Regions from separate parts of the Homo sapiens genome. Here region 1 is linked to region 2. Evidence: fine-mapped QTL for protein levels in blood plasma. A gene starts in region 2. The other region holds a variant in brackets. All regions are shown on one strand. Distances are between the middles of the regions.

Region 1 (8,000 bases), 140 kb before region 2:
TAATACACCTTTTAAACGTTTGCATTTGTCCATAGTGCTCTCCTTCTTCTTCATTATTGTTCAGTCTTTTTTTTTCTCCTCAGATTGATCTTTTTTCAAGTTCATTGACTTTTTTCTCCATCAAATCCATTCTGCTACTTAGTACCTTTATTTGAGATATTTTTGATTTCTAACATTTCTAGTTGGTTTTTGTATACATTCTTTTTATTTCGGTTTCATGTGAGATTTCTCACCTTTGGTTTTCCTGTCTTCGGTTATGAGTGTATTTTCTATTACCTCGATGAGTGTAGTTATAAATAGTTGTCTTAATGACCTTGTCTGATAATTTTGAGGTTGGTATCTGTTTTGTTTTTGTTTTTCTTTGATAGTGTGTCACATTTTTCTGGCTCTTCATATGGCAAATAATTTGAGGTTGTATTTTGCACGTTGTAAATACTATGTAGACTCTGGATTCTTTTCTATTGTCGCAAAGAGCATGAGGTTTTTGTTTTAGCAAGCAGTTAACTTGTCGTTAAAATGAAACGCACACTGTCATTATGTGGGCAGTTGCTTAGATGCGCCCTTTAAGCCTCAGGTGCAGGCTGATTTGTTTGCCTCAAACACATGTTGTTCAGGGGTCAGCCAGAGACTTGAACTTCTATACTCAGAATTTGGGGTTTCTCCTATGGTTCTCTTACTTCCTGAGTCCTTACCTCATTTCTCTAGTAGCCCTAGCTGCCCAGTCTCCTTCCCCTGGTCTCTTCAGCGAGAAAGGAGGCCGGAGCTTCTGCTTGAGTGCTTGCTGCGCCACACCAGCTCCCTCAGAGACTGTGGCTGCCTTTAGGGGACAGACAGAAAAAGTGGTGATGCCCAGATTCTTTTGCTTCCTTTTAAAATTTGCCTGTTCTTTCTTTTTCTTTTATTTCCCTCCAGCTTTCAAAGCTCTCACATAGTTGGTTTATTTTATTTTATTTTTCCTGTATTTCCAGGACGTATAGCTTATAGTTCACCTATATTTGTATATTGGTTTGTTAGGCATAAACAGAAATGGAACTTAGTATGTTATTTTTGAAGCATCTGATGCCAGTCTAATTCTTCTTCCCTTCAACATTATTTGATCTTTTTGGAGACTCCTTAGGGATATTTTTTATTTTATCATTTTTTTTTTGAGACGGAGTCTCGCTCTGTCGCCAGGCTGGAGTGCAGTGGCGCGATCTGTGCTCACTGCAACCTCCTACTCCCTGGTTCAGCGATTCTCCTGCCTCAGCCTCCCGAGTAGCTGGGATCACAGGCACGTGCCACCACGCCCAGCTAATTTTTGTATTTTTAGTGGACACGGGGTTTCACCATGTTGGCCAGGATGATCCTGATCTTCTGACCTCGTGATCTGCCTGCCTCAGCCTCCCAAAGTACTGGGATTGTAGGCGTGAGCCACAGCGCCCGGCCAGGATTTTTTTTTTAAGACTCATGGCTTTACTGTAATATGTTTTGAATTGATCATTCCAGTTCTGGCTTGGCCTTTTCAACAGATTCAGGTCTATATTTCTGCAAAAGTTTCTGGGATTATAGTTTTAAATATTCTGCTTCGTTGTTTTGCTTTTCTTCTGGGACTCCAATTATGTTTACGTTGGGCCTGCTTAGCTATCTTTTATTTCAGTCAACTTGACTTCAACCCTTTTATATTTATATACACATACACACACACACACACACACACAGACACACACACACACACACACACACACACACACACACGCATTTTTACCCCAAATACTTATTTGACAGTATTTGTTTTTGTTTTTTGAAGACAGGGTCTTGCTCTGTTGCCGAGGCTGGAATGCAATGACTCAGTTGCAGCTTACTGCAGCCTTGACCTCTAAGGCTCAATCAGTCCTCTCACCCCAGCCCTCCCTAGTGGCTGGGACTGTAGGCATGTGCCACCATGCCCAGCCATTAAAAAATTTTTTTTTTCTTTTTTCTTTTTGAGATGGAGTCTTGCTCTGTGGCCTAGTGCAGTGGCGCAATCTCGGCTCACTGTAAGCTCTGCCTCCCAGGTTCATGCCATTCTCCTGCCTCAGCCTCCCGAGTAGCTGGGACTACAGGCGCCCACCACCACACCTGGCTAATTTTTTTTTTTTTTTTGTATTTTTAGTAGAGATGGGATTTTACCGTGTTAGCCAGGATGGTCTTGATCTCCTGACCTTGTGATCCACCTGCCTTGGCCTCCCAAAGTGCAACCCGGCATTAAAGAATTTTTTTTATAGAGATGGGATCTTACTATGTAGGCCAGGCTGGGCTCAAGTGATCCACTCACTCCAGCCTCTCAAAGTGCTGGGATTACTGGTGTGAGCCACTGCACCCAGCTGATAATATTTGATTCAAGTTCAAGGGTTTTGTTATATTCTTCAGTTTTGTGTTTGCTTTTATTTTAGGGAGTGTGATGGGTTTTCCTCAGCTGAAATGATTTGCTTTTTCTTTGTTTTTTTAAAATAGATTTTTAAAATGGATGTAGTCTATTCTATTTCCATTCATTGCATAGGCCAGGCTTGTGGCCAGAGCGTCCTCTTCTGTCAGTTCTGCTGTCTTGCATAGTTTCTTTTATAGGTGATGCTGGTGAGGGAGGGAGGAGGGAGGGGCTCGTGTATCTCGTTTGCGTTTTGTTTCTATAGGATCCTTAAATGTTTTTCTCTTAGTTTCTTCTTTTTTTCACTGCCATTGGTTCAAGGGCTGCCACTCCCCCCAGAACTGATGTTTTTCAGAGCCTGCCTGTCCTAGTCTTGCTCCCATTCAGACCCCTTCCCTGGAGTGGGTGCTGTGAGCTGTGTGGGTTCTCTGTTGTGGCAGTTGTGCTGGGTGTCCTCTTTCTGAGACTTCTTTTACCTGTGCTTCATGTAAGTTCTCCAGGCTGTACTACTTTTTATGGAGTCTTAAGCGTATTCTCCCCGACTTTCTGCATCCATAGACTTGCAGCTGTGTTGGAATTTGATTATTTTTCTACTTATAGGTCATCTGAATTTGCGCTGTTATCTCCGTGTCAGTGAGAATGTAGGTCATATGTGTCTTTTATTTAAGTTTCTTTTTTATTTTCTGCTTTTTTTTCGGGGAGGGAATGGGGTAAGACTCAGTATCAGCCAGCCATCATTGTTTTCTCTACCTCATCTTCTTATGGAGTCCATTGAAATGGCTTATTGATTTTTATCTCAAAATCGATCTCTCATAGATCTTTATCTCTGCTGTTACAGTCGAGACAAGTATCATGTCTTGCTTCAGTTACTGTAGCAGCCTCATGCCTGTCTGTTTCATTTTGTTTCTTATACATAAGCAAATGTAACCCCTTTTGTTACCAGTGGAAGGTATCCAAGTTACCGGCAGCAAACACGTATGGGTTTGCAGCAACTTCAGTTCTTGCTTCCTCAAAAGAAAGAATTCCACGGAGGAGCATAAGGCAAAAGAAGAGACTGACGCAAGGGTCAGAGCAGGAGCAGAAGTTTATTTAAAAGGCGTCAGAACAGAAAGAAAGGAAAGTACACTGGGAAGAGTCCCAGGCGGGCATGGAGGTCTAATTTGATGTTTAACCTTGATCCTGGGATTTGTAGGCTCGCCCTTTTCCGCAGTTCTTCCCTTAGGGTGGGCTGCCCGCATGCACAGTGCGGGAATTGAGCACAGGCAGCTTGTTTAGGAAGTTGTGTGGGTGCCCATCTGAAGCTTTCTTCCCGTTTCTCCGCCATTTTGTCTCTTAATGTGCATGCCCGGGAAATGGCCTCTCCCTGGCGTCTGCATTCAGTTAACACTTTAGCACAACAGGTGTGGACTGTCAGGAAATGGCCTCTCCCTGGCTCTGGCTGCCAATTTATCACTTTTAGAGAGGCAATGTGATAATTGTTGAGCTATCACCCAACATTCCTAGTGGGTGGTAGAGGCCTCTCCTGCCGGGCTTATGCCTAACTACCTGTAATACTTCAACACATGGATCAGCTTTATCCTTCTGACAAAATGGCTTAGAGTTCAGTGGTCTATAGCAGAGAATGGCCAACTATCATCCCCCAGCCAAATCCACCCTGCCATACTGTTTATTTTTTTTTAATGGCCCATGAGGTAAGAATGGTTAAGAGAAAAAAAAAATTCAAATGTTTACTATTTCATGATATTTACATTATATGAAATTCAATTTTAGTATCCATAAATACCGTTTTATTGGAACACAGGCATGTTCATCTGACGATGTAGTCAGTGGCTGCCTCTGTACTACAGCTGTAGATTTGGATCCTGTGGCAGAGACCTTACGGCCCACGAAGCCTAAGGCATTCACTACTTTCCCCTTTACAGAAGTTTGCTGACCCAGGTCCAGTGTGCTGCATGATGGTCCCCTTCCCTTCCATTGTCAGCTGCTCCCCTCTCCCTTGTTTGCGTCTTCCAAATGCTCTGGGCTTCCACGTCCCCAAGGCTACACTCTTTCTGCCTTTAGTTCTTGGCCTGTGCTGAGAACTCTGCCCCGTCTTCCTGATTCTAAACCCAGTTTTGTAGTCAGCTCCTTTATACATGTTGCATTGCAAGGT[C/T]GCTTTATCAGAAGAGCTTCCTCTGTCCCCAGTTCACAGTTCAAGCCCTATTTGTTATTCTCTGTCTCAGCTCCTTTTTTCCTGTGTGTACTATTAAAACTTATTTTGTTCATTTGACTGCTTTATCTGTCTGTGTATCTAATCATGCATTTTGTCTTTCTATTGTAATGTGGATTCCAAGAGCAGCTACCTGTCTGTCTTATTTATGGTTGTGTTTCTAGTAAGTCTAACATTCATCTGGCTCATAGTAGATGCTCAGTAAATATTTGTTCTAACAAATTATGAACAAAGGAAAATTTAGTTAAGTGGCGTAGAGATACTAGAGAAAATATCATGGGGGAAAATGATTTGAAAAAAAACTACATTTTAAAAGTCGTATAGAAATGTGGAGGGGAGAGTGCAGAAACAGAGACCTTTACTAGAAGCTTGAAGTAAATGGAGATGCATGGACAAAATTAAAATAGTAGCCATTTCTGTACCTAATAGGGCCTCTCAGCTAACCCTACAATGGGGATGGTCACTGGTAGTGTGTTCTGCTGAGAGTTAGGGATTCTTACTCTGCTTTGCTGGCCCAGCCCCTGACTCATTCTCTATCCCCTTTCTCTCTCTCTCTATTTCTGCCCACCACTAACCCCAGCCTTTCTCAAGGGGCTCATGCAGACCCCATAATACTTGTAACTTCGTTATCCAAAAGCAAAGTTTTCTTTTTCTTTTCTGGAGACTGAGTCTCACTCTCTTGCCCAAGCTGGAGTGCAGTGGTGCGATCTCGGCTTACTGCAACCTCCGCCTCCTGGGTTCATGCCATTCTCCTGCCTCAGCCTCCCGAGTAGCTGGGACTACCGGAGCCCGCCACCACGCCCGGCTAATTTTTTGTGGTTTTAGTAGAGACGGGGTTTCACTGTGTTAGCCAGGATGGTCTCGATCTCCTGACCTTGTGATCCGCCCTCCTCGGTCTCCCAAAGTGCTAGGATTACAGGCGTGAGCCACTGTGCCCGGCCAATTTTTATATTTTTAGGAGAGACAGGGTTTCACCATGTTGGCCAGGCTGGTTTAACTCCTGACCTCAGGTGATCCGCCCACCTTGGCCTCCCAAAGTGCTAGGATTACAGGTAAGAGCCACCGTGCCTGGCAAAAGCACACTTTTAAGGTCCTCAGAAGCTCAAAAGTGAACTTAATCTTTTGGCATTTTTCTTTTCTTTTCTTTTTTTTTTTTTTTTTGAAACTGAGTCTCGCTCTGTCGCCCAGGCTGGAGTGCAGTGGTGCAATCTTGGCTCACTGCATTCTCCTGCCTCAGCCTCCTGAGTAGCTGGGACTACAGGCGCCCGCCACCACGCCTGGCTAATTTTTTTGTATTTTTAGTAGAGACGGGGTTTCACCGTGTTAGCCAGGATGGTCTCCATCTCCTGATCTTGTGATCCGCCCGCCTCGGCCTCCCAAAGTGCTGGGATTACTGGCATGAGCCCCTGCGCCCGGCCCATACACTTTAGTCAACTTTTTATTACAGGTCATTTTTTTGCCTGTACATGCAGATGCATCCCACTTTATATATATAAGAATATTTTGTAGTAGCTGTCCAGTAATTTATGTAAGCAGTGTCCTATTGGTGATTGAAGTTTTTCATTTCTTAGTTATTTTTTTCAATTAGAAATATTACAGCATTGAGCTTCTGTATGTATTACCTTTTTGCGGGTGATAAATCTTTCCATAGGTTTAAATCCCCAAAGTGGGCTGTTCATTTCTGAGAGTTTACATATTTAAATATGATAGATGCTGCCAAATTATCTTCTGGAAGGAGTGTACTGGTTTCCATTCTCACTGGAATTATCAAAAAAATGCATGTTTCCCAATACCTTTGCTAATGTTGTGAGTTATCAGTTCTTCTTTCTAATTTGTAGAAGAAAAATAATAGTTTTTATTTGCATTTCTCTGACTTTTAGTGAGCTTGAATTTTCTTCAGCAGAGCATAGAGATAAGAGCCAAACTGACCTGCATTTTTTATGTCACGTCTGTCCTTTCTTGGTGAACTGCCTGCCTTTCCAATGCAGTAGCTCATGGTTTCCACTGAAAATGTGAACATTAACTTCATAAGGTCACTAGGTGTCACTAGAATCCCATTCTGTTGGGTTCCTTCTGGGAGTGTTCATTTTAAGATCAGATGGCAATTGATAAAATTCTGACATTTCCTTTGGATGTAGAAATTTTTACCTTGAAGAAAGAATACATAAAGTTGAAATAAAGGTCAGCTTGGCCCCCACTCTAAGTTCTGTTGAAGACAATTTATCATTTTTAAACAACTGCAAACTAACAGCTAGGTGGGGAATACGGTTCACAGGCTTTGTCCTTGCTAGGCTGAGAGTTGGTTGCTGACCGAAGGCCATCACCCCCTGCATTTAGTGTTTGCTGGAAACAGGGACATATTCCTGCATAACCACAACACAGGCCGACATTAGGGGCTTACCACGGCTCCTTTCCTCCCGGAATCCTCAGACTCCATTCCTATCCTACCAGCAGCCAGCTCCACTTCCCGCCTCCTCAGCCTTCTCACCCTGCAGCCATTCCTTAGTCTTTCACTGGCTTTTGTGACTTTGACACTGTTTAAGGTCACTGACCAGTGATAGGAACGTCCCTCAGTTTGGAACGGTCTGATGTGTCCTCCTAATATCACATCAATGTGTAACAGTGGATGTGTAGCCATTTAGGACTGGGCAAATTACTCAACTGCTGGGCTCTAGGTTCCTCCAGTAGCTCCTGAGTTAACTTCCTACGGTTATTTAGTGCTAGACCACAGAAGTTCGCTCTCTGCTGGCAGAGCACTGTTGTGCAGACTTCTCTGAGTCTCCTGTGTTCTTCCTTGTGTGTCAGGGACACACGTGAAGGATAGCGTGCTTCGCGGCTGGAATCTTCAAGGAGATGCCATTCACTTTTTTACCTCACTAACACAGTGCCGTTTACAAAAAAGATTAATGTACTTTTCCTGAATTGACTTACTGACTGGGCCTAGAGAATAAGATACTGGTGCTGGGCAGTTTGGCACAAGAGTAGCATAAAGAATGCAGGATTGGCCCAGGTGAAGGCATCGTCCTAAGGGTAGAATGAGAGTCGGTGGTTCCTGGCCGACCTAGCAGGTGTACTGTGGGAAGTGCTGGAGTGAATCGGCTCTCTGGGGAGAATAAGCTCATCACAGCACGGCTTCCCGAGGAGAACGTTGCTGCTTTGATTTCTGTTGGCTCTGAGGCAGCAGCAGGTCAAATAGTTGGTTCTCTGTTTAGAGACATCTCTTGAAACACTTTTCGTTTTGACCACTAGATGGTGGGATAATGTTATCATTTTACATTTCTGAAGAAAAATAGAAATCTAACTGGAAGCTTTTTTGTCTGTTCAGTAGATTTTGGTTGGACCCCTGGTAAACATGGGTTTCAGTGTAGCAGCTTTAATGTGTTACCACGTGTGCTAAAGCATAGCTGT
Region 2 (8,000 bases):
TTTCAAATCATTCTGTTTTAACGTGTTCATAGACTGCAGTTGTTTATAGGTATGAGGCACTCATCAGTGTGAAATAGTTCTTTCCTTTCCATATTTCCTCTTATCAGAAAAAAAAATTCCTGTGGTCTCCTAGCAAAATACAATCCATTTTGCTAAATTATTTGTGAGTTTTTATAAAGTGTGTTTAATATCACCAGGGCAGAGGTTCACACTAGTTGCAGGATTAGCAAGAGAGACGTAGCATGAGTAGTGTTTGGTCCACTGCAGTGTGTTTTGTGTGCTAGCGATCATGAGTTTATCTGATCCTTGTTTAACTACTACACAGTGAGTAAGCTGTCCTGTATTGTTCCATTCATATTCCTCTGAGTTCATTCAGAAGCCTGACACTTCCTTTGCCGGACAGATTAAAGGGGCAGCGTGGGACCTTTTGATGATGTGAAACCTGCTTTCTTAGTCTAAGCTCCCTAGGCTATGCTGACCACTCAGAGGTTGAACTACTATTTATTTGCCCTAAAATGAACCAGAAACTTGGTCTTAGTTTCCTTCCTGACACATGTTTTAATTTCCTAAAAGTGTACGGATTTTGTAGTGGGTTGTTTTTGAATCTTTCATTTTTAGTGCTGATCCAGGAGAGAAAGGAGATATGGAAACATTTTTTTCAAAAAATAGCTCAAAAGAAAATATGTAAAACCATGAAAAACCCAGAATTGTGCTGCTGCTTTCTGTGCTAATTAAATCAGTGGGTGTTAGGTTGTAATGATAACCCTTTAACTGTGTGGCTTATCTCTCATTCCATTTTATATTATTTTCTTCCTCATGAGAAAATCAGTGTTTATTATCACAGGTGACAAAACACAGGAGAAAAACAAACAGTGAGGTTACATTTAATCACTTTAAGTGGGTTTCATCTTTGCTTTTTTGTTTTCATTCCCAAGCCAGAAGCCGTAAACCGAGCGAGAGTGCAAATTGCCTTTCTCAGGTGCACGTTGCTGAGATAGGCTGGGAGAACAGGTGTGGAGCCCGTGAAAAGATAAACATTAAGTCATTCTTGGGGAAACGGTATTTAGCTAGACAGCTGAAGACGGACTTTTGAAATACCATTGTGCTACTGCTGTTCAAATATTGACTAAGTGAACCTGGAAAGGAAGAAATTTTGGTCGCCTAACATAGAACTCGTTGTCTTTTTCTGTCTTTAAATGTTATCTCAAAGACCCAAGAGAAGGGGTAGTTTACCTAAGAAAGAAATATGAGCTTTGCTTATGGAGTTTCAGGTATACCTAATGTAAGTTAATTAAGCAAATACAATGTAGCAGCCTTGCATTTGGCCTAGCATTCTTTTATGTTTCCTGGCTGTTTCTTCGAGGAGATGACCTGCCTGTCGGGCAGATTAGAATATTTACTGCAGTGCATCTTTCATGCCTCGCTGTGACTCTGTAACCACGGTGGATGTGGGAAAGCCATTAACCATCAGCTTGACGGTTTACAAAGAAATAGGAAGTTCAAGTTAAGCAGATATTTAGGATATAGTTTGCCTTCCACATATTTCAACCTGTGTTGCTGCATACTTTTTAAGCTTAGCGTAATTATTCACACAGCTATGAATTTTAGAAGATGTTTAAAAGCAAACCACAGTGACCTGGGAAAGGAGGGAAACTTACTGGAGCGCTTAGCCAGGAGCTTAAAAAGACATTGCTAGTGAGTTTTATGTCACATGAAATCTACATTTGATAGGTCATTTTGGTAAGTTTTTGTTGTTTTAAATGACTCCTCTTGACACAGTAACCAGTGGTGCTGGGAACATTCATTCACATTCATTCATTTAAGCTCATGACTCAAATAATAACTTAGTCGTTTCCTCTCTGAAGGTAGGGGAGGTAATGAGGAGCACCGATTAGGCTCCAAGATCCGTTCTGAGATTCAGATAAGGTGTCCTAACAAAAGGTTTATGGTGAAATGAAAGAGTGAGAAAATAATTGTGCTTTTTCTAGGGTCATGCGTCAAATGAGGCTCACCAACTTTTAAAAGACTTTACATAGCTTTAGATAATCACATTCCCTGCCATGTAAGCATTGTGATGTAATGGCATCATCATGCTACTTAACAATTAATTTATGCATTTTGTTTAAACTTCCTTTAGAATATATATAGTCCATATAAAGAAAATTCCAGGTTCGTTTTGGATTTTGTATAAATAGCTCCCATGTTTACATGTGAAAAAAAATTATTTATGAAAGAAAAACAGAGCTTTCAATATCCTATTTTGGTTACGTCTCCATAAAAACTCTAGGAAACAGTGGGATCATCTGTGAAACAGTGGAATCACCCCAAGAACAAACTGTCAGACAGACCGTCCTGTCGTGGCATGACTTGAACATAACCGTCCCACGTGGGGACGCATTCCGCACCGGTTGCTGGAACTGACGGGGGCTGCAGTGCTGAATACCTCTGGGACGCTTGGGAACTGTGCCCCTGTTTACAGACGGCAAGCCCTTAGTGGTAGGGCCCTGAGATTCTGAGAAACATAAGGTCTGCTTTATTTAATTTCCTCTCGTTTACCAAGAGTCACAACCTATTTTAGTAAATAAATTCAGGAAATTGGTAAAGCACTTTACTCCATCCGTTATGCCTCGGTCATCAGCATGGTTGTCACGGTCTCTCTGGCTCACGGGCTGCTGCGGCTCACAGCCTTCCCTCACTTGCCTGCAACCAGCTGAGAGCCTCCCTGGTGATGGGTGTTACTGAGCTTAAACGATGTAAACAAACAGAACGGCACACAAGTTGTGCAGGGAAGTATATTTCCTCTACCTTGTTAATAAAGATTTCTAACTTTAGAGATTTTCTGTATTGACTCTGGCATTCTTTCCAAATAATTATTTTCACCCCGGGGACTACCCACACACCCTGGGATAGAATAAAAGAAATTATCTTTCATTTGAGGGTACCAGCAACCCGCTCTCCAGCTCTAATCCTCTTCATCCTCCTTCTTTTTTTTTTTTTTTTTTTGGTTGTTAAAACCTGAGCTGCTGCCAAGCTGATCTTAATAGCATGTTCACAAAGACAGATGGATTTTTTTCCTACCTTCATTAGCCACTGAGTGTTGTTTTCCATGATGTTCTCCAGCACTTGCAGCCTCTGCACCGAGTCATCGTATTCGAGCGGCGCGTCCCTCTGCACAGCATTGGACACGTAGGGGCTGGAGGAAGAGCGGCAGTTGTCCATCTCTGGCAGGAGGAAAGTGTAGCTGCAGGACCCATGCTGGACCTGATATTGCTTCTTTCCTATGCTGTCCATGCTCTTCCGAAAGTTGTTATAGGCTGCGGCCAAGACAAGATCACAGCTCAGAGTAAAGAAAACAATCTGCCACATTCTTTCTTCAGTAATAAACCAGCAGCTTAGCAAACTTGAGGGCAAACACACGTCCAGAGTCCCGAGCTGCTGCCGTCTAAAACGCAGGGCTGCTACGCTGCCATGGCTGGGTCCGTCAATGAAAGTCTTCTCTTTCCTCTTTTTCCAGTAGCAAACCTGGTTTTTACTGCTGTGTTCTCTCCAGGCATGCAGTAAACTGTCAGATTGCAGTGGGAAGAACAGTCCTGCTCACTTGGGAGGGCTGTGTCAGCTTTTACAGAGCAGCTTTCACGGTCCTTTGTTCCTCTCTCCCCAGATCCTACAGTGTCAGTATCCGAATCAATCACTTTCCTTTCCTTATATGATAAGTTGATAAGAGCAGCCAGACATGTGTAGTGGGCTGCTCCGCCCTCCTGGCTTAGCCGTTATCTTCCTGTAGGGGGTCACTAGCCAGGCAACAGGAAAAATCAGAGCAGAATGCCTGCCCTCCAACCAGGACCCATGCTGCAGAAACCCTCTGGGAAAAACCGATCTGTTACAGGACCCCTGGGCATTTCCTAGGCACCACCCCAATTAAGTATTTCCTAGAGAGAGCAGTTGATCTCTTTTGTCTGAAACTGATTTTTGCCGTGCTAAGCTGGCAAAATATCTGAGGTAATAACTTTAATGTTGAAGTACAATGAAAGTTCCTGTTTTTTCCTTTAGGAATAAAAATATTACAAATAGGTCAGGACTTCGGTTTATTTTTGTTATTACAAATAAAGAGGAAGAAGTTTGGCTCCTGTAAACGTGTGCCTTTTCAGAGGGAAAAATAGATTCATTGATTTTAGTTGATTCTTGAACCACTAGCCAAGTTACAAAAGATTTTCATTTCCGAACAGTTGGATAGAAAGATCTGTTATTAAGTCACGTTAGAAACATCAGTTTCTGAGCTCTGACCTTTATTCTTTAAAAAAACTCCACTTGGATATTCACTCTAAAAATACACTGTACTGATTAAGTTCATTACATTACAATAGAGAAATTAGAATTTAAGTGCCTGTGTAGAAAGAGGAATACAAACTTTTTTTTTTTTTTTTTTTTTTTGAGACGGAGTCTCGCTCTGTCGACCAGGCTAGAGTGCAGTGGGGCAATGTTGGCTCACTGCAACCTCCGCCTTCCGGGTTCAAGTGATTCTCTTGCCTCAGGCTCCTGAGCAGCTGGGATTACAGGCAAACGCCACCACACCCGGCTAATTTTTGTATTTTTAGTAGAGACAGGGTTTCACCATGTTAGGCTGGTCTCAAACTCATGACCTTGTGATCGACTCGCCTTTGGCCTCCCAAAGTGCTGAGATTACAGGTGTGAGTCACCATGCCTGGCCCACAAACTTCTTTATTGTGTCAGAATTTGTTGACATCTCAGCATTTTGTAACACATTATCAATTACATTAGTCCCCCTTGGTATTAGACTCGGGCAAGTCACTTCCCTGTTTTAATTAAGCTCTAATGTCCTCATCTGTGCAATTCAAGGGGTGCACTCACAAGATTTTTCACCTTCAATCCTATGGCTCTGTAAGTTCTGCAAGTCACTTCCTTTAACAACTAAAACTTAATACTTCAGAGATTAATAATATGTTAACTCAGCAGCCCAAGTGTACATAGGGAAAAAGCCCCCTGCCTTTGCTGCGGTTTATCTCTCAAGGTACAAGGTTTATTATTCCCAGTGAGCGCTGAATAGCTGGTACACTGACTTAACAGACCACATCTACCCATAAAAGATCTTTATTTTTTACTAAGCTCTAACCGAAAGACAGCCTTTCCCTTATCAATGAATAGTTAACGAACAACAGTGTGAATATCTGTGACTTTCTCATCCTCAGAAATCAGCTCTTTTTATTTGCTGCCACAATACTCAGAACTACATTTTTATTAAACCCAGCCCTAGATCTTGCTACTGAACATTGGAATAAAGTAGCATGTGTCTTCTTTTGAGAAGGTGTTTATAGGCTTCACCAGACAACCAAAGGGTTCTGTCACACAGAAAAGCTGGAAGACATGCTCTGGAAGGATCTCATTAGTAGAAGAGGTAGTATGATTCCACCAAGGTTCTGGACATGGTTTCCACTAAGGGAACCAATTAAAGATGCTATACCCATCCGGACAGTGCACCGTCGAAGAAAGCATATAGGTCTTAAAGATGAGACCTGTGTTAGAACCCTGCTTCTGTGTGACCTCCAGCAAATGCTTCCATTCTTGGAGCCTCAGTCTCCCTAGTCATAAGATGGAGATCATTTTTTCTCTGTAGGGTTTTTAGGATTAAGATATAATTGTATGTTTAGAAATATTTGTTCCTTTTCTTTACAGGCATGCTCCATTAAATGGGGATCAGTTCTTCCACCATCAAATAGTATAACTCTGCTATTCTCTGAATGCAAAGCAGTGGCAGTGGCATAGGGTACAATTTTTTTATTTCCTGTTTGAAAAAGCATATTGTAAGGTATTAATATCACATATGTGGTTTTACCTTTTTTCAAGATTATTTTTTGTAGAGACGGGGTCTCACTCTTGTTGCCCAGGCTGGTCTTGAACTCCTGGCATCCAATGATCCTCTTGCTTGGCCTCCCAAAGTGCTGGGATCACAGGTGTGAGCCACTGTACCTGGCCTGCATATATGGTTTTAAAAGTCATTCAGTTGTCTTCCAGGCAAATAGAGTAGTTTAAAAGGAACAAATAGAAAGAGGGCACACCACAGTACTTTTTGTCTACCAGCCTTGTGTCAGACACCATGCTATGCACTGGGGATAGAGATTAAGGCAACTGGGTGTCTGACCTAAAGAAGCTAATAGTGTATGGAGAGGGAGAGACCCATAAACAAATTGGATGTGGTAAGAGAGAGCAGTCGGAGCACAAAGAAAGACAGTGATGCTTCCGGGTGCACAATATGCCATGTGCAGCTGGCATGGACTCCATCCTTTTCAAATTCCCTCAAGTTCCGAACATGGAAGGAACAGCTCTTTGTAGATTCCTAAATGGAAATTATCGGAACCAGAGAGTCAGGGGAAGCTCTAGTAGAGCCGGAGTTGGCAAACTCTGTCCAGTGTCAGATGGTAATTATTTTCGGCTCTGCAGGCTATACGGCCACCATCGCCACCACTCAAAGGTAATGCGGTGCAAAGCAGCTGTGGGACAGCATTAACTGAGTGAGCGTGCTGGGCTCCAATAAAGCTTTATTCGTGATACTGAAATTTGAATTTCTTGTAATTTTCACATCATGAAAGATTCTATTTTCTGCAATCATTTAAAAGTTTAAAAACCATTCTTAGCTCATAGGCTGTTAGAAACCGGGCCTGGACTGTAGCTTGCTGGCCTCTGAGAGCCTAGGTGGTCTGTGGGGGTAGGAGGTGCTGGGCAAGGCCGTCCACAGTGCACGCGGTGTGGTGACCGTGTGTGGTTGGCAAGGCTGTCAGCAGTACACACAGTGCAGCAACCACCGTGTGTGGTCAGCAAGGCCATCCACAGTCCACACAGTGCAATAACCGTGTGTGGCGAGCAAGGCTATTGACACTGTACGCCGTGCAGCGACCGTGTGTGGTCAGCAAGGCCATGGAGAGTGCACACAGTACAGTGACCACCTGTGGTCGGCATGGCCATTAACAGGGCACACAGCACGGTGACCATGTGTGATCAGCAAGGCCGTGGATAGTGCCCGTGGTGTGGTATCCATGTGTGATCGGCAAGGCCATGGATAGTGCATGTGGTGCGGTGACCCTGTGTGATTGGCAAGGCCATGGATAGTGAACGTGGTGCGGTGACCGTGTGTGATCGGCAAGGCCATGGATAGTGCACGTGTTGCGGTGACCATGTGTGATTGGCATGACCATCGACAGTGCTTATGGTGTGGTGACCGTGTGTGATCCGCAAGGCCATGGATAGTGAGTGCACACGGTGCGGTGACCATGTGTGATCAGCAAGGCCATGGATAGTACACGCGGTGCGGTGACCATGTGTGATCGGCAAGGCCATGGATAGTGCACGCGGTGCGGTGACCGTGTGTGATCGGCAAGGCCATGGATAGTACACGCGGTGCGGTGACGGTGTGTGATCGGCAAGGCCATAGATAGTGCACGCGGTGCGGTGACCATGTGTGATCGGCAAGGCCATGGATAGTGCACGCGGTGTGGTGACCGTGTGTGATCGGCAAGGCCATGGATAGTGCACGCGGTGCGGTGACCGTGTGTGATCGGCAAGGCCATGGATAGTGCCCGTGGCGTGGTGTCCATGTATGATCAGCAAGGCCATGGATAGTGCACGTGGTGCGGTGACCGTGTGTGATCGGTAAGGCCATGATAGAGCATGCAGTGCGGTGACCGTGTGTGATCCGCAAGGTCATGGATAGTGTACACGGTGCGATGACCATGTGTGATCCGCAAGGTCATGGATAGTGCACACGGTGCGGTGACCATGTTTGATCGGCAAGGCCATGGATAGTGCACACGGTGCAGTGACCACCGTGTGAACAGGGGAGGACTGGTGCCTCGGCTCAGCCTTCTGTGTGGCTGCTTACAGGGGCTTACTAACGGGATAGAATAGGTGCTTAGAGAAAGTGCCACACTGAAGTGAATTAAGGATGCCAGGTGGGGAGAGGGGCCAGGAAGTGGCCTGGGATGCAAGTG

Direction of the effects. Positions count from the first base shown, and alleles are read on the strand shown. Strength reflects both the effect of a copy and how common the allele is.
For the plasma level of the protein whose gene starts at base 3,677 in region 2, allele C in region 1 goes with a higher level than allele T (moderate association).

Evidence for each region. PIP is the posterior inclusion probability: the model's chance that the variant is causal. Protein levels are from antibody-based Olink assays in UK Biobank. Linkage for the fine-mapping came from a reference panel and not from the study's own genotypes, which makes the PIPs less certain.
Region 1: its variant is fine-mapped to the plasma level of the ANGPT2 protein (UK Biobank, PIP above 0.99).

Annotation. Positions count from the first base shown.
Region 1 is chr8:6,417,455-6,425,454 of GRCh38, forward strand. All of the region lies in intron 3 of MCPH1 (microcephalin 1), which reads left to right. Among named protein-coding and RNA genes, the nearest start is that of MCPH1, 15 kb to the left of the region's middle. RefSeq lists an enhancer at 657-706. The variant C/T (reference allele first, on the strand shown) is at 4,536.
Region 2 is chr8:6,559,569-6,567,568 of GRCh38, forward strand. ANGPT2 (angiopoietin 2) reads right to left here and starts at 3,677. Exons shown (of 9, transcript NM_001118887.2): 1 at 3,079-3,677. The coding sequence starts at 3,366. All of the region lies in intron 12 of MCPH1 (microcephalin 1), which reads left to right. RefSeq lists a silencer at 1,340-1,634 and enhancers at 2,494-3,019, 3,020-3,546.